Regions from separate parts of the Homo sapiens genome. Here region 2 is linked to region 1. A link means that fine-mapping ties the variant in region 1 to the expression of a gene that starts in the linked region. Tissue or cell type: whole blood. Region 1 holds a variant in brackets; the other region holds the start of a gene. All regions are shown on one strand. Distances are between the middles of the regions. Region 1 overlaps ELP3 (elongator acetyltransferase complex subunit 3). Region 2 holds the start of NUGGC (nuclear GTPase, germinal center associated).

The links.
Region 2: it holds the start of NUGGC, and the variant in region 1 is fine-mapped to the expression of NUGGC in whole blood (INTERVAL, PIP 0.96).

The regions. Positions count from the first base shown.
Region 1 is chr8:28,144,072-28,152,071 of GRCh38, forward strand. The region is part of intron 10 of ELP3 (elongator acetyltransferase complex subunit 3); the gene reads left to right. Among named protein-coding and RNA genes, the nearest start is that of ELP3, 55 kb to the left of the region's middle. The variant C/G (reference allele first, on the strand shown) is at 3,753.
Region 2 is chr8:28,078,093-28,089,350 of GRCh38, forward strand. It overlaps NUGGC (nuclear GTPase, germinal center associated), which reads right to left and starts at 5,844. Exons shown (of 19, transcript NM_001010906.2): 1 at 5,683-5,844. RefSeq lists an enhancer at 1,002-1,131.

The sequences.
Region 1 (8,000 bases):
ATCAGTTGTATGTTTATATTTAATTTGCCAGTCATGAAATTTGGATTATAAATATTGTCTTTTTATTGAGAAAGCTCAGAAAAAGTTCATAAATGTTGCCTCATTTTGAATTCTTTCCTCTCACCCAAACGAATAGGAGACTAGGGAACCAAGAGGCCACATTCATGTTCGTATAGGACACTTAGCACATAATAACAATCTGATAGCTGTTTTCTAGTAAAACAGCTTCATATCTCTATTTAAAAACCTTAAATTCGGCCAGGCACAGTGGCTCTCGTGTGTAATCCCAGCACTTCGGGAGGCCGTGGCAGGTAGATCGCTTGAGCCTAGGAGTTCAAGACCAGCCTGGGAAACACGGTGAAACCTCATCTCTACCAATAAATAAAAACATTTTAAAAATTAGCCAGATGAGGTGGCACATGCCTGTAGTCCCAGCTGCTCAGGAGTCTGAGGTGGGAGAATCACTTGAGCCTGGGAGGTTGAGGCTGCAATAAGATGTAATTGCTCCACTGCACTCCAGCCTAGGCAACAGAGTAAGACCCTGTCTCCAAAAACAAAAACCCTGAAATTCCATTTCAAAGTGTTTCAAAATTTATATTCAGATAGAACTAGAATTTGGTAACTAGAATTTTGGAATTCAGACATTATCTAAAATGTCTAGACTTTTAGAAAGAAACTTGTATCAGGCTGGGCGTGGTGGCTCACGCCTGTTTTCCCAGCAGTTTGGAAGGCCAAGGCGGGCAGATCACCTGAGGTCAGGAGTTCAAGACCAGCCTGGCCAACATGGCAAAACCCTGTCTCTACTAAAAATACAAAAAAAATTAGCTGAGTGTGGTGGTGGGCACCTATAATCCCAGCTACTTGGGAGGCTGAGGCAGTAGAATTGCTTGAACCTGGGAGGCAGAGGTTGCAGTGAGCTGAGATCGTGCCACTGCACTCAGCCTGGTGACAGAGTGAGACTCCATCTCAAAAAAAAATAAAATAAAAAAGAAACCTGTATCAAAAGCTAGATAGTAAAATTTTGAAATAAAAGTGCTCAGAAAAATGTTAATTGCTAACTTAAACATTATAGTCAAATGTGTATGAGAAGGCTGAGTGTTTATACAGCATCAAGTGGCTGAGAAGCTTTCTGATTTGGGAAGAGAGACTCATGGGGATTTTACTCAGCAATGTTTTTTTCTAGCTTCAGCCTTAAAGTTTTAGAGCAATTCTGAGACTGTAGAAAATTGCTGTTAGTCTTAAGACTACAGTTAAGCACCCTGACTCTGTTTAATTTGATATTAGTTATGTCTTGCTAGGAAGAAACCACTGGCAAAGGAGAAAAGTCTCCTTCCAGGATATTTAGTCCAGATGATTTTTAATAATTATAGTTTATTTATTTTTGTTTGAAATCATTGTAAAGGAAAATCATTTGTGTCTTTCTGTTCAGTGCCTTTAGAAAATCTGCATAGCCTCCATGGAGGTTCACCTAGTGGCAGCTTCCACCAATTATAGGCAACACACTGTTGACTGGTGAAGCTGAACTTACAAGGTTTATGTGGAGAAGGACCTTTTTTTTGTTGTTGTTTTGAGACGAAGTCTAACCCTTGTCACCTAGGCTGGAGTGCAGTGGCACAATCTCAGCTCACTGCAACCTCCGCCTCACAGGTTCAAGCAATTCTCCTGCCTCATCCTCCTGAGTAGCTGGGATTACAGGCTCCCATCACCGCGCCCAGCTAATTTTTATACTTTTAGTAGAGACGGGGTTTCGCCATGTCGGCCAGGCTGGTTTCGAACTCCTGACCTCAGGTGATCCACCTGCCTCGGCCACCCAAAGTGCTGGGATTACAGGCGTGAGCCACCATGCCCGGCCAAGAAGAAACTTAGGCAGGTATCAGAAGGGAGAATGGAGGAAAGGAAGATAATTTGAGTGAGAACACAATGTTTCACACTTTTAAAATTTTACTGTATTTTACTGATAGATTACTTGATGTTTTTAATTGGTTATTTTCCCCACCCTGCCCTACCCATTACCTTTTTTTTAAAAAGACTATTTATACTTTTTAGTTTTATGACAGTTGAGTTAGGAACATCTTCCAGGGTGTTTTTATGAAGCAGCATCCTAATAGAAGATTCTGTGTTCCAGCCCTGAAGGGTGCAGTCAATGATTAAATGTAAAATTCTGTCCAGACACATGATGGAGCCATATTAAACTGTTGCTGCCCTCAGGCTATTTGACAGCTGTCTGCTGATGTGATATTTAAATCATCATGAAACATTAGAATAGGAATACCAATTCACAACCCAAGCATGTTTCTGAAGTATGAGCAACTGCAGACAAAAAAAGGCCTAGACATCACTTGAAAGGTTTCTGATGAGCAAATTGCAAATATCAGCACCTCTAAGCTTGAAATGTTACCTGTTGAAATAGAACAGTGAATGTTCTTGTATGTAATCGATCTTCAGGCCAAGAAAGTGGAACTAGATTGAATCAAATGGAGAAACGTAAAAATAATTTTAACTCCTACCTAGATGAATGCAGCAAGCTCAGATAGTCAGTAATCTCATCTAGGTTTTCAACTCCTAGAAGACTGTAACAATGCCTGCTTATATAGTCCAGATTGCTTACTGCAGTACTCTGTCCATTGAACATGTTCAGCATACATAGAATTATCTCTTTTCATTTTCAGTGAAAAAGACTTTGTCACTGAAACTGGCAATTACCACATTTCTGTTCCTTAATGAGGAAAAACTTCCATCTGGTATACTCGCAGCACGATACTACCAAAGACCATTGAATCCATGTTGCATTCTCATAGTGGCAGACGTAAATTTGAGGACATTTGTGAATTGTCAGCATCAATGTGAATGCCTCTGTTACCAGGTCCTCACTGACTTGTGCTCTCTGGTAATCAGGGCCAGCTTCAAGGATATGTGACCCATGCAGTCTCATAGGGTCTTGCACTTGGCTTAATATTCTGCTGTCACCGTCTTGAAATTATTAATAATTTTTTTCACAAGGACTCATGTTCTCATTTTGCACCGGGCCCCACAGATTCTGTAGCAGCCTCCTGGGTCTTTTTATCATACAGTTCTGCTTACCAACACTGTATGTAAAACCTTCCCTAGAGAGTTTACGTCTATTGAAATTTTAATGTCTTTTGAAAGTACCAGTTTGTTATTAAAAATATTTGTAGAGATCATCTCCCCTTACCTTCCCATCCCCTCTTCCCACTGCCTGTGGAGACAGTGCACCTGAAGCGTGGCCAGCAGCGTGCCTGGCACCTGACTGATGCAGAGGTAAGGAGAGGGAGTGCAGAGATGGCAACTGCAGTTGTTGGGAGATTAGTTACATTGAGCAAAGAAGTTATTTGATTTAGCAAATGAGTAGATGTCCTAAAGATAAGGAGAGCCAGTTTTCTCACTCCCTGAAGGGATTTACAAACATTTAAAAGGTGAAAGCTGAAAAGAACACCAACGTACCATGTTAGTATTGGAATTATCAGTATGAACTTACGGGTTTAAAAATTTATATATAGAAATAGTTATAGCGTGTATGTTTATATATATAAATATATGTCTCTCTCTGTGTGTGTATGTGTGTATGCATGCATATATTTCTTAGTAGTATGTACTGAGAGGTTCTAGAGGCAATGACACCCAGCAGTAATAAACACAGTGAGTTCCAAGATTATAGTTTCTAAAGCCACTCTCCACTAAAAGAAATCAGTGCTTAGAAAAATGGCCATTTCCAGGGCTGGGCAGCAAACATA[C/G]AGGATGAACACAGAACATCTTGTCTTTCCAGAGAGTAAGTAAATAATCAAAGAATGACAGGTCATGTCAGAAGGACCCAGAAACCAGCCTGAATGCATACCCACTGGCAAAAATCTAATGTCAGCAACAAAATAAATAATGTTAATATTAGTTAAAAACTTGTATAAAATAGGAATCCATAAGTTTGTACTGATATACATAAATGAATAGATAAATAGGAAAGAAGGGAAAAGTCTTCCTTACATACAAGGTCAACTAGTAAATATAGAAGGGATGGTAGAAATAGTAACTATTTGGCAACCATTAGATTAGTAGTAAATGCTACTACTAATAGCATTTACATTGGTGTAATACTACAGTACTACACTACATTGGTGTAATACTACAATAGCATTAGGTGATAGACACAGGAGTCATCAGTCAATATGAGACTAGTAGTTGTAGGTTTGATGAGGAACAGGGTGTTGTCATGATATTGACATTTCTTCCCATAAAATATTACTCAGATGTAAAGGGGGAAATGGTGACCATGGTGTAGATAGCCGGCAGACGCAGTCTTGACCAGGGCATCCTGTGATGAAACAGGTCAATATAGCATGCCTATATTATTCACTGAGACAGGGCATCATTTCTGTGGTATTCCTGCCAAGAATTCATGGCCTCTGGTCATGAGGAAACACTAGACACATCCAGTGAGAATAAAGACTTTCTAACTGGATACCATTAAGTATGGTGTTAGCGATAGGCATTTTTAGATACTCTTTATCAAGTTGAGGAAGTTCCCCTTTATTCCTAGTTTACTGAGAGCTTTTATCATGAATGGGTGTTGGATTTTGTCAAATGCACTTTCTGTATCGACTAATATTGTGAGATTTTCTACTTTAGCTCATTGTTTTGATAAATTATGATAAATCGCACTTGGTTTCAACATATTCTTTTTATGCATTTGATACATTGGATTTCATTTGCTAATATTTTGTTGAGGATTTTTGCATCTATGTTCATGAGAGATGTTGGTCTGTAGTTGCTGTGATCTGAATGTTCCTCACCCACAAAAAAATAAAAATTCATGTGTTGAAATCCATACCATCAGGAGGTGGGACCTTTTGGGATGTGATTAGGTTAATAAGGCAGAGCCCTCATGAATGGGGTTAGTTACTCAATATAAGAGGCCCCAGAGAACTGCCTCATTCCTTCCATCATATGAGACACAGCAAGAAGGCACCATCTGTGAGAAAGTGGGCCCTCACCAGGCACTGAATATGCAAGTACCTTAATCTTGGCCACCAGAACTGGAAGAAATAAATTCCTGTTGTTCATAATCTAAACAGTTCATGGTATTTTGTTAGAGCAGCTCGAACAGACTCAGACAGTAGTTTTCTTGTAAGTTCTTTGTCTGGTTTTGGTATTAAGGATGCTGGCCTCACAGAATGAGTTAAGAACTACTAAGAAGTATTCCCTCTGCTTCTGTCCTCTGAAAGAGATTGTAGAGAATTGGCATAGTCTTGCTTAAATGTTTGGTAGAATTCACCAGTGATAGAGTCTTATTCAGATTGAGTATTTCTTCTTGTGAGTTTTGGCAGATTGTATCTTTCAGGGACTTTGTCCATTTCATCTAGGTTATCAAATTTGTGGGCATAGAGTTGTTCATAGTTTTCCATTGTTATCCTTTTAATGTTCGTGGGCTCCGTAGTGATGTCTCCTCTTTCACTTCTGATACTAAGCGTTTCCATCCTCTCCTTTTTGTTAGCTTGGCTAGAGGCTAATCAGCTTTTGATTGGTCTCTTCAAAGAACCAGTTTTTGGTTTCATTGATTTGTTTCTCCGTTGATTTCCTGTTTCAATTTCAATTTCCACTCTAATTCTTATTATTTATGTTCTCCTGCTTACTTTGGATTTAATTTACTCATAGTTTCCTAAGATGGAAATTTAGATTTTTTATTTTAGATTATTCTTCTAATATAGGCATTCAGTGCTATAAATTTTCCTCTAAGCACTGCTTTTGCTGCCCTCGTTCTTTGTTTCTATTTTTGTCTTCCATTCTTTTTCTGCCCTTTGTGGTTTTAATTAAGCATTATGTATTATTCCATTTTCTCTCCTTTCTTAGCATATCAGTTATTCTTCTTTTTTTACTTTTTCTTTCCAGTGGTTGCCCTAGAATTTGCAATGTGCATTTACTACTAATCTGAATTCACTTTCAAATAACACTATACCACTTCACTTCACAGGTAATGTGATACCTTTATAATAACAAAATAATCCTAATTCCTCCCTCCTGTCCTGTGTGTCATTGCTGTCATTCATTTCACTTAAATACATGCATAAGTAAGCATTTGTATATATGTATGTATATACACACACATAAGCTATCTATAGCAGCATACATAATTGAATACATTGTTGCTATTGAACAAACTCTGTTAGATCATTTTAAAATAAGAAAAAGGAAAGGTTTTATTTTACCCTTGTTTTTGTTCAACATTTCTCTTTATGTAGGTCTGAGTTTCTGACCCATATCATTTTCCTTCTCTCTAAAGAATTTCTTTTAACGTTTCTTGCAAGGCAGATCTATTAGCAACAAATTCCCTGAATTTTTGTCTGAGAAAGCCTTTTTCTCTCCTTTATTATCCTTTGAAAGAATACTTTCATAGGATTCAGAATTCTAGGTTGGTGGCGGGTGTTTTTTTTCCTATCAGCACTTTAAATACTTCACTGTACTCTCTTCTTGCTTGCATGGTTTCTTAGGGGAAGTTGGATATAATTTTTATTTTTCTCTATACGTAAGGTGTTTCCCCCCCTCCCCAGCTTCTTTCAGGAATGTTCTTTATCTTTTTATTTTCTGTAGTTTGAAAATGAAATGCCTACATGTAGGTTTTGGGGGCATTTATCCTGTTTGGTATTCTCTGAGCTTCCTGGATCTGTGGTTTGGTGTCTGATATTAATTCTGGGAATTTCTCAGTCACTTGTTTCAAATATTTCTTATATTATTTTGTTTCTTCTCTTTCTGGTGTTCTTATTACACATGTTACACCTTTTATTTATTTTAGAGACAGGGTCTCACTCTTACCCAAGCCATTCTCCCACCTCAGCCTCCCAAATAATCGGGACTACAGGCATGTGCCTCCGTTTTTTGTGGGGATGTGGTCTCATTATGTTGTCTAGGCTGGTCTCAAACTTCTGGGCTCAAGTGATCTTCCTGCCTCGGCCTTCCAGAGTGCTGAGATTATAGGTGTGAGCCACCGTACTCGGCCTGTGTGACACATTTTGTAATTGTCCCACAGTTCTTGGAAATTCTGTTCTATTTCTTTCAGTCTTTGTTGTCTTTGCTTTTCCATTTTCAGAGTTTCTCTTGATAATATCTCAAGCCTAGAGATTCTTTTCTCAGCCATGTCTGTCTACTAATAAGCCCATCACAGGCATTCTTTATTTCTGTTTCGGTGATTTTTTGATCTCTAGCATTTCTTTTTAGTGTTTCTTCAGATTTCCATCTTTCTGCTTACATTCCCCTCTGTCCTTAAATTCTAGCTACCTTTTCCGTCAGAGCCTTCAGCGTGTTAATTATAGTTGTTTTAACTTCCTGGTCTGATGATTCCAACATCCCTGCCATGTCTGTTCCTTATTCTTGCTCTGTCTCTTCAAGTTGTATCTTTTGCCTTTTGGTATGCCTTCTAATTTTTTCTTCATAGTCGGACATATAATGTTCTAGGTAAAAGGAATTGCTGTAAATAGGCTTATAGTAACCCGATGGTAAGATGATGGGGGAGAAGTGTTCGCTAGTCCTGTGATTAGGTCTTAGTCTTTCAGTGAGCCTATGCCCCTGGACTGTGAACATCACAAGGGTTTCTCAGTTTTTCCTACGCCCTTAGATGGGACAGGATGACTAGAGTGGGCAGGAGTTGGATATTTCCTTCCCCCAGGTCAGTTAGGCTCTGGTTAACTAGTTTCTCCTGCAGGAAGGCCTTAATTAAGAAAAGCAGTGCTAGGTCATGTTTCAAAATGGTTTCTTTTCCCCTCTCCCAGCCAGAAGCAGAAGGGTTTATTTCTCTGATATTTAATGTGAGGATCTGGCCAGGTTACTGGAGGTAAATCTCACAATATTGTAGGAGTTGGCCCATCCGGAGTGTTTAACTCTCAGACTTGTCTGAGCCTCCAGCAGTTCATCGGTTAGAATTCAGGTTTTCTTACCTTAGTGTTGGTTTCTCACAGCAGTTTCCACTCAGGAGTCTCTGCTCTGTTAAGCCACGACTT
Region 2 (11,258 bases), 64 kb before region 1:
AGCTGCATGCAATGAAGACAGAAAACCACACAACTTCCTCCGTAGCAGCATCTATGGTTTCTGTATACAAGTAATTTGTGAACTCTAACTGAAATTTGGAATCATTGGAAATTATGTGGTTTGGTTGTGGTGGATTGGGCTTCAAATTCCTTTGGCCAATGTTCAAAGACTGGCAGGAAGGGATCATTTGATGACCAAACAAAAACACTAGCAAATGGAAAGGGATCATTTGCAAAAAGGCTAAGAGGACAGAAGAAAATAAACACCAAGTACATAAAAAGGAAAAGCGATAAACAAATGGGGGTAGTTTGGTACAGACATTCAGTATATAGTCATTGGGTTGAACTAAATGATGAGGTGGGAAGAACATTAGGCTGGAAATCTGGTGTGGAAGCTTCCAGCTCCAGCTTTACCACCCATCAATAAAGCTGGAGGACTTAAGACAAGTCGTTTTATCACCCTGGCCTCAGGTTTCCCATGTGTAAGGCAAAGACTGAACTAGTCCTTAAAGTGTGAGTGTTCTCTGATTTAGATGGGTGCTAAAAAGACACAAATTCTCATTTTGAAAATGTCACCTGTCATTGAAACTGAGACCGTACCAATGATTAGGGCTTCCGTGTGGCCAAGAGCAGTACACCAAGAGCACTGTGATTTCAAGTGCATTGTATTAAGGAGAAAATGAGCTACAGGAGTATAGTCCTTCTTCAAATCATCCTGCAGTCTATTTCCCCCCAAAGGGAAGGAATGGTGGTGTTCATTGTGAAAATTTGGTTTCTGTGGAGAAGCAATTGATAACAGTCCAAATTTATTGCTCAGATAAGCAAGGTTCTGCCTGTGTGGTTTATTTTGCTTGTATTTCAGCTATGTGGTTAGCACTGAAGTTTTGCTTTTAGTGCTTATTTACATTCATGTGCACTGAACCTAAGAATAGCATCTTTTAAATAAGACTGTGCACATTCAGCTAGATATAGGAAGGCTGCACAGAACTGATTTCCTGATAAATAATTGTAACTTTTCACAGTTATTCTTGCTTCTCTCCCCCTCCTTTTCTTCTGTTTGTGTTTGCTTATTGTTTTTTTTCTTACAGGAAAATCACAGAGGCAACACAAACGCAGGTCATTCCTGTACTAGAACAGCTGCATATCATGGCATTGAATAAAGAATGCGGGCCGGGTGCGGTGGCTCTCGCCTGTAATCCCAGCACTTTGGGAGGCTGAAGCAGGTGGATCACAAGGTCAGGAGTTTGAGACCAGCCTGACCAGCATGGTGAAACCCCATCTCTACTAAAAATACAAAAATTAGCCCGGTGTGGTGGCACGCGCCTGTAATCCCAGCTACTCAGGAGGCTGATGCAGGAGAATTGCTTGAACCCAGGAAGTGGAGGTTGCAGTGAGCCGAGATCACGCCACTGCCAGCCTGGGCAACAAAGCGAGATTTCGTCTTAAAAAAAAGAATGCTAGGGCCCCTTCTTCTACAGATCCAGACCCTGAGGACCAGGAAGGGGAAGAAACTTGTCCAAGGTCACATAGTAAGATTATGGCAATGAGGGCTGAAACTCAGTTTTCCTGACTCCAAGTTCAATGTTCTTTTCATCACATTCAGCAGCCTCTAATAGGCACTATTTAAACAAGCCCCCTGGAGCTCAGGCATAGGGCAATGGAAGGAGTAGTGCCCGCAAAGGAGGGTTCCCTCAAATGCATGGCAAAGGCATTTCATGAGAAGGAAGGCTGTTGAGTGGGGAGAGAGAGTAGCAACTTGATAGAATTGTATGCAGGAACTGAAGCTGAAGCTACTGCCTGCAAACTGCTTTTTTGTTTTTGTTTTTGTTGTTCTTTGTTTTTTTGTTTGTTTGTTTGTTTGTTTTGAGATGGAGTTTTTGCTCTATCGCCCAGGCTGGAGTGCAGTGGCACATGATCTCAGCTCACTGCAACCTCCGCCTCCCAGGTTCAAGCGATTCTCCTGCCTCAGCCTCCCGAGTAGCTGGGATTACAGGCACCTGCCACCATGCCCGGCTAATTTTTGTATCTCTAGTAGAGACAAGGTTTCACTATGTTGGCCAGGCTGGTCTCGAACCCCTGACCTCAGGTGATCTGCCTACCTTGGCCTCCCAAAGTGCTGGGATTACAGGCATGAGCCACCATGCCCAACCTTACTGCCTGCAAACTTGAAGACACCCTCAGAAGTAAAACAAGCCAGAGAGAGAGAGAGAGACTATCAGAGGAATACATTTTCACTGCATTTTTTCTGTGTTCAATGCAAAATTCAATGTGTTTATTACAAATGACAAATGTCCTTTTCTTTTCCCCTAGTTATTCTCCTTAGGCAGAATCTCATTTCACCCTACCTTGCCTCGCATCATTAACCCTTGCCAACACTATTTACTTACTTAAATTTAAATGCTTAAATTAGCAAAGTTTCTCAAAGGGGCATTTTGGTCATTAACATTGGTTTACTCTCTACTTTTAATAAATATGGGAAGTACTTGGTACACAGCAAGCACTAAATAATTTGTTGAATGAATGATGATAGATATAATTTTTTGTATCTATATCTAGATAGATCTATCTAGATCTAGATATAGATATATATCTTAGATGGTAAGATCAAGAATAGCAGAAATTATATTTACTATTTTATTTATCCATCCATTCATTCAACAAATATTTGTGAGTGCCTATGATGCACCAGGCACTGTTCTAGATACTGGGGGTACAGCAGGAAACAATGTGGTCACAGTATCTGCAAACAAAGGGCTTCCATATTCCAGATGTGAATGGTGGAGCAAAAATTATTAGGGATTTGGAGTCAGAATGCCTGGATTTTTGCTCCTGCTCCCAATCTTCAATGCAACACAGAGCAAATCACCTGATCTCTCTGAGCCTCTATTTCTCCACATATAGGATAGAATTGGTTTTAAAAAAAATACCTGTATCAAGAATTCATTGGCCAGGCATGGTGGCTCATGCCTGTAATTCTAGCACCTTGGGAGGCCAAGGTGGGCCGATCACTTGAGGTCAGGAGTTCGAGACCAGCCTGGTCAACATGGTGAAACCCTGTCTCTACTAAAAATACAAAAATTACCTGGGCATGGTGCAGCATGCCTGTAATTCCAGCTGCTTGGGAGACTGAGGCAGGAGAGTCACTTGAAGCCAGGAAACAGAGGTTGCAGTGAGTTGAGATCGCACCACTGCACTCCAGCCTGGGCAACAGAGCGAGACTCCACGTCAAAAAAATAAAAAATAAAAAAGAGTTCGTTGTGAGAATTAAATGTGATAATGAATGCAAAATTGCTCTGCAGGCACTTATGCATCTGTACAAATGTTATTTTTTGAATATTTTATGAAGGTAGTTAAACTAGAAATCAGTACTAGTGTCATCCAGGCCACGTCTGTTAGTCTTTGGGGAACAGATGCCACCTTAGCTGAGATTCTGACTCCCGTTCTTGTCCCTATTGATCAAACACATTGAGGATGCTCTACCATCTTCCTTAAAGAATCTTCGATCAGCTGGGTGCAGTGGATCACACCTGTAATCCCAACATTTTGGGAGGCTGAGCCGGGCAGATCATGAGGTCAGGAGTTTGAGACCATCCTGGCTAACTCGGTGAAACTCTGTCTCTACTAAAAATACAAAAAATTAGCCAGCCGTTGTGGCACATGCCTGTAGTCCCAGCTACTCAGGAGGCTAAGGCAGAGGAATCGCTTGAACCCGGGAGGCGGAGGTTGCAGTGAGCTGAGATCATGCCACTGCACTCCAGCCTGGGCAACAGAGTGAGACTCCATCTCAAAAAAAAAAAAAACAATCTTTGGTCAAGTTTTTTCTTGCTCTCACAAGAAGGTGAGCTGAAGAATGAAAGAAGGAAGAGGAGGAGACTGTTAATGAAATGATAGAATGTTGATGAAATTTAGAATTTATTTCCTTTCTCTTTGAGTTTGGGTTTAGGTTTAAGTAACTTTGGTGTTGGCAACATTTCCTAACCACCTCGTTGGCCACTGCACTGCTCTTCCAAACTAGGGATGTCCCAAGGCAGCAATTTAAACACATTAGCTCAGAAGCAAAAGTGAAACAAGGGCCTCCAAATCTCTAAAGGAAAAGAGGTATGTTTTCAGCATTAACACATCGGCTAATGTGTTCAGAATTAGAAATGTGGCCACCAGAAGCAGTCGTAGTAGAAGGGAGGCTTTAGGATGACATGTTTTTCTCCATCTTTCTTCCCTAGGTAAAGAGGTAAGCAAAATAAGCAGATATTTTCATAACGTACTTTAGCAGATTCTAGCGAAACGAATTTGAATCTTCTCATATTGCTCTCCCAAGCTTGTTAAAGCTAATGAGGCATAAGATGACACTTCCCTCCTTATCAGGAATTCATACACCTGCCAGCAATTTCTGCAATAGCTGTTTTCTTTTGGGAGGAATGATTAATGACTTGCCTAAGATCACACTGTTCTGTAAAATTCAAACTAAAACCTGATTCTCCCCATTTCTAGCCCACTGGCCTTTTTACATAGCCTTAAAATTCACTTAAACAGCCTGAGCATGGTGGCTCATGCCTGTAATCCCAGCACTTTGGGAGGCTGAGAGGAGAGGGGATCCCTTGGGCCCAGGAGCTTGAGACCAGCCTTGGCAACAAAGTGAGACCCTCATCTCTACAATTTTTTTTTTAATTAGCTGGGCATGGCAGCATGTATCTGTAGTCCCAGTTATTCAGGAGGCTGAGGCAGGAGGATTACTTGAGCCCAGAAGGTGAAGATTACAGTGAGCCATGTTCATACCACTGCACTCCAGCCTGGGTAACAGACCGAAGCCTCAAAAACAAACAAACCAAACCCCCAAAATTCACTTAAGCAAACAGAAAAGTAAAATTCACTTTCCCTCAAGAAATAACTTGCTTTAAGAAAATCAAAGGAGAGAGAAGAGACAAATGTCCCATATACAGAAGAATTCCAAATAATTTACGTAGCTACTCCATCCTCAAGGAGGTAGAATAAAACTCCCTGCTCCTTAAGTGTGTGCTGTGCATAGCAGCTTCTTTCCAAAGAGAACACGGCGGAGATTGGAGCAGGGAAAGGATCACCTTATAGCAGAGAAACCAGACAAGCGCTGCCTCTACCAGGTGGTCAAGGTCAACACCAACAGTCCTAAATCATGTTGACAATATTATCCCTTGATATGATGTGATGAGAACAGCACTTTAACTCTGGGACTCCTTCCCCAAAACCCATAACTCCAGTCTAATAATGAGAAAAACATCAGACAAATGCCAATAGGAGAAGCCTACAAAATACCCAACCAGTACTCCTCAAAACTGCCATATTCATCAAAAACAAGGAAAGTCTGAGAAACAACGCTACAGCTAAGAGGAGCCTAAGGGAACATAACTAAATATAATGTGCTATCCTGATAGGATGCCACAGTAGAAAGCAGACGTTAGATAAAAACCAAGAATCTGAATCAAGCACAGACTTTAGTTTAAGAATAACGTATCAGTATCGGTTCATCAGTTGTAACAAATGTACCACACTAATACAAGATAATGGGGAAGTTGGGTGGGAATTACATGGGAATGCTCTAAACTATCTTCTCAATATTCCTGTAAACTCAAAACTGTTCTAAAAATTAAGGTCCATTTTTAAAAAATCAACCACAAGTTACAGTACAAATTACATAAAAGAAACAACTTACCAGATGTCACTGAACAGAAAAAAAAAAAAAAAGTTCTGGTTTGGTTACAGGAGTCCACAGAGGAGATGGTGGCAGCTTCTCCTTGGTTCAGGTATTTGGAACCAGCTGGGGTACGTAGCCCTTTGGGCCACAATCACAAAGCCACGTTTACACAGCAGAAGTGAAACCAACTTGCCATCAGGGAGCTATTTACCATGGTCTCCTCCCACAGATACTGATTTATTCTGTCTTCTTTCACTTAAATCTAAATTCACCAGGCACGGTGGCTCACTCCTGTAATCCCAGCACTTTGGGAGGCTGAGGCAGGCAGATCACTTGAGGTCAGGAGTACAACAGCAGCCTGGCCAACATGGTGAAACCTTGACTCTACTAAAAATACAAAAAAAAAAAAAAAATCAGCCAGGCGTGGTGGCAGAACCCTGTAGTCCCAGCTACTCAGGAGGCTGAAGCAAGAGAATCACTTGAGCCTGGGAGGTGGAGGTTGCAGTGAGCCAAGATCGCGCCACTGCACTCCAACCTGGATGATGGAGCAAGACTACATCTCGAAAAAAAAAAAAATCTAAATGGTACATGAAACGGGGATCTTGCACCCTTCTCTGCCATGTTCCTACAAGTAGACAGATGTCTTTTTTCCTTTCCAAGTGCATCACTGCATCCTTCCACAGCATCTTTTCTCTGAGGGTGAACAATATTCAGATGACTGGTTCACTGGAGCAGACAGGAAAAATGCCCCAGTTCCAAGACAGACAAAGCACTGGCTCCCCGACACCCAACTATAAGACATGACTGGGAGAGATGGAGGATATGAGATAATAAATATAAAGTTATTCTTGACCCAAAGTCTTAAAATTCACCAAAAATAACATTTGCCAAAAATAAAACAACATTGGATTGTTTGAGTGTAGAAATGAGTGATATACCGCTTTACACCTCTTTCTGGAACTTAAATTTTAAATCCGTATATTTTTATGTCTTTATTTAGTTAGAGACAAGGTCTTGCTCTGTCACCCAGCCTGGAGTGCAGTGGCGTGATCATAGCTCACAGCAGCCTCGACCTCCCAGGCTCAAGCCATCCTCCCACCTCAGCCTCCTGGGTAGCTGGGACCATGGTCATGCTCCATCACGCCCATCTAATTTTAAATTCATATTTTTAATAAACCCAGAAAACAAAAATTTGAAAGTGCTGTCCAGGAGAGAAGAAAATAAAACCCACTCCACTTTGCTGTGTCTGGCAACCCAAACCATCACATCACATACAGGGAAAAAGTTGTCCCTTGAACCCTCAGCTTCAGGGTGTGTGTTACCTTTTTTTTTTTTTTGTGAGACACAGTCTTGCTCTGTCACCCAGGCTAGAGTGCAGTGGCGCCGTCTCAGCTCACTGCAACCTCCGTCTTCCGGGTTCAAGAGATTTTCCTGCCTCAGCCTCCTGAGTAGCTGGGACTACAGGGGTGCGTCACCATGCCTGACTTTTTTTTTTTTTAATTTTAGTAGAGACAGGGTTTCACCATGTTTGCCAGGCTGGTCTCGAACTCCTGATCTCATATGATCCGCCCACCTTGGCCTCCCAAAGTGCTGGGATTACAGGTATGAGCTACTGTGCTGGGCCAAGGGTGTATGTTACCTTTAAAGGCCAACTCAGTCATTACCAAGACAACCCTCAGTACTCTAGGTATGTATTTAGTCTGAAGAGGGGATTCAGAAGGTAAAGAGGTCAGAACAGGGAAAGAATTGAAGATAAATGTTTAGACTGTGGTCTTAAAAACTGCTTTGAACTTTTGGCAAGATGACGTCCCTCCTCCATAAGAAAACCACAGAAACACCAGGCTAAAGTTCAGAACAAAGAAAGTCAGCACAAATGCCATCCTGGATGCTGAGTCTTATACTGATCTCTCTAGGCAAAATCACACCTTACGCTTACATTCATGTCACGTGTGCTCAGCTCTCCCTCTACTGGCTATTTCTTAGCTTCAACAGTTAACCACAAATGCTACTAAATTACTTAATTATTAAAATTAATTTTGAGCATTTTTAAAGCTTCCTGGGGCAAGGCCCAGTGGCTCACACCTGTGATCCCTGCATTTTGGGAGGCCGAGGTGGACAGATCACCTGAAGTCAGGAGCTTGAGACCAGCCTAGCCAACATGGTGAAACCCTGTCTCTACTAAAAATACAAAATCTAGCCGGTCATGGCAGTGTGTGCCTGTAGTCCCAGCTACTCAGGAGGCTGAGGCAGGAGAATTGCTTGAACATGGGAGGCAGAGGTTGCAGTGAGCCAAGATCAGGCCACTGCACTCCAGCCTGGGCGACAAAGGGAGACTCCATCTCAAAAAATAAAAAAATAAAGCTTCCTGAGTTCCTTTATTTGTTTGCTTGTTTTTGTTTGTTTGTTTTAGACAGGGTCTCACTCTGTCACCCAGGCTGAAGTGTAGTGGCGTTATCACGGCTCACTGCAACCTCAACCTCCTGGGCTCAAGTGATCCTCCCACCTCAGCCTCCCAAGCAGCTGGGACTACAGGCATGTGCCACCACACTTAGCTTAAAAAAACAAAAAACAAAAAAAGAAAAACAAAAACAAAACAAAACTTTAGTAGAGATGAGGTCTCCTTATGTTACCCAGGCTGAACTCAAACTCCTGAGCTCAAGCGATCCTCCCATCTTGGCCTCCCAAAGTGTTGGGATTACAGGTGTAAGCCACTGGGTCCAGCCTCTGGGGTTCTTTATGGTAGTCCTTGGCACCTGCTATTGGACGCCTGAATGCTAGGCCTGTTAGATGTTTCTCCATTCTCTCAGGCTGAATTTCCATTGAGCTCACTGAAAACACTGAAGCAATGAGACCGTCCACAGAGCCTCATCATCACCCCCAACCACCTATCCGGTGCTCTGCCCTCCAGCCTGTTGCTAGATGAACTATCCATGCACCCATTAAAGGCCAATCCCTTCTCTGTGCACCAGATTCCATCCCTCTCTCTAACTGAAGAACCATGTAGAGTACTTCCTCCTCTTCTCTAATTCACCAAACTTTCACTCTCCACTGGATTATTCCCATCTGTGAACAGATTTGATGTCATTCATTCCACCTTAACAAACACTCCCTGGACCTCCATTTCCCTGCCAGGTATTAGTATATTTCTCTGCACTTCTTTATGACAAAACTCCTAGGCTGGGCATGGTGTCAGCACTTTGGGAGGCTGAGGCAGGAGGATCACTTGAACCCAGGAGTTCAAGACCAGTCTGGGCAACATAAGGAAACCCCTGTTTCTACAAAAAATAAAAATAAAAATTAGCCAGGCATGGTGGTGCATGCCTATAGTCCCAGCTACTTGAGGGGCTGAGATGGAAGGATCACTTGAGCCTGGGAGGTCGAGGCTGCAGTGAGCTGTGATTGTACCACTGCACTCCAGCCTGGGTGACAGAGCAAGACCCTGTCTCCAAAAAAACAAACAAAACCCCACAACTCCTCAAAAGAGTTGTCTCTACTTACTGTCTCAAATTCCTTTCCTCTCAAGCTAATATAAACCTATTCCAGTCAAGCCTTCACCCTTCCCATCCCATTAAAGCTGTTCTTGTCAAAGTCCACAATGATCCTGGTCAATTTTCAACCTTTATCTTTCTTGAGCCATCAGGAGCATTTGACCTGGTTGATCATTCCCTCCTGTTTGACAAACCTCCTACACTTGGCTTTCAGATAACCACTCCCCTAGTTTTCATCCCATCTCCCTGGAAGTGCTCCTCAGTCTCCTTCACTGGTTATTCCCTCGCTTCTCAACCTGTTAATAATAAAATACCCCAAGGCTTCATCTTCGGTCTCTTTCCTTTCCACAGCCACCCTGTTTCGTAGCTTTCAATTTCGTTCACATACCGATGGCTCTCGACTGATATCCAGTGTCAACCTCTTTCGTGTCTTCCTGTTCACTAGTCATCCGAAAATACAAGTTCAAACCAATCCCCGCCAGTCCCTTGAAACACCTCTCCACCTAATTTTCTCCATTTCATCTAATGATAACTACATTTTTCCAGTCCCTTGGTCAAAAAGCTTTGGTGTCACATTTGATGTTGCTGTCTGCCTTTCATATTCCACATCTGATCTGTCAAAAAGTCTTGTTGAAATCTTCAAATTATATTCAGAATCTGAACACTTCTCACCACCTTCACTGCTGACTACCCCGATTTGAGTCTCAATAATCTCTGGCCTCATTCAGTGGTTCCTAAGTTTTGCTGCACGTTGGAATAACCCAGGATCTTTTAAACATGCTAATGCCTGACTCCCACCCCTTGATATTCTGATTTAATAGGTGTGGGATGTAATCTGGGCACTGGGAATTTTTCACTGCTCTCCAGGTGATTCCAATTGCAGCAAAGTTTGGGAATCATTGGCCTGGCTATGGTAACCGCCACCCACCTGATCTCCCCACTTCCACACCAACCCCCTCCCACAGTCTATTCTCAATGCAGCAAATAGACATGCTTTTAAATTACAGATCAGATCCATTCAATTCTCTGCTAAAAACACCAGTGGCTCCCCATCTCAATTAGGGTAAAAGCCAAAGGCTTTTCAATGGCCCACAAGGTGTTACATGAGCTGCACTGCCCCCTGTCCCATGCGCCACTCCTCTGACCTCTCTTTCACATTGCCTCACCCACTGCTCCCGTGATGTCAGCCTCCTCAGTCTCCTTGAACACCCCAGACATCCTCTCACCTAGGACTTTTTTTCTTTTTTGAGATGGAGTCTCGCTCTGTCACCAGGCTAGAGTGCAGTGGTGTGAGATCTAGGCTCACTGCAACTGCCACCTCCCAATTCTCCTGCCTCAGCCTCCCGCGTAGCTGGGAGTGCAGGCGCGTGCCACCATGCCCAGCTAATTTTTGTATTTTCAGTAGAGACAGGGTTTCACCATGTTGGCCAGGATGGTCTTGATCTCTTGACCTTGTGATCTGCCTGCCTCAGCCTCCCAAAGTGCTGGGATTACAGGCGTGAGCCACTGCGCCTGACCTTCACCTAGGACCTTTGCACTAACCATTATCTTAGCCAGAAATACTCTTTCCCACATATCTACACATCAAGTATTAGCTCAAATATCACATTGTCAATAAGGCCTACTGTAACCCCTATTTAAAATTATACCTTTAACCACCTATCTCCCTCCCCTCTCTGAGATAAAACAGGGAAGAGGTAGAGGATGGTGCCATTAGATAAGGAAGAGCAGATCTGGAGTAATAATAGAGTTCTGTTTGGGACATGTTAAGTTTGAGATGCCTATTAGACACCCAAATCTAACAAGATATCAAATAGGGGAAAAGTTGGGGTTGGACTGGAAACCTGGGAGCAAACACGTGGTGCTCTGGGGATCACCTTGGAGAGACAAGGCTGAGTGACCCCCATGGAACACTAGTATTCTGAGGTGAGGCAGAGACAGAGTTCACAAAAGAAAGAGAAGAGAAACCAAGAGAGTTGGAGGGCCCTGTCATAAAAGATGTTCATGGAAGAGTTGACAAAAAGAGTCAAACTCTGTAAAATACTTGAAGAGATTTATTCTGAGCCATGATTGACCAACTGAGGCAAGACAGGCAAGCTCCAAAAT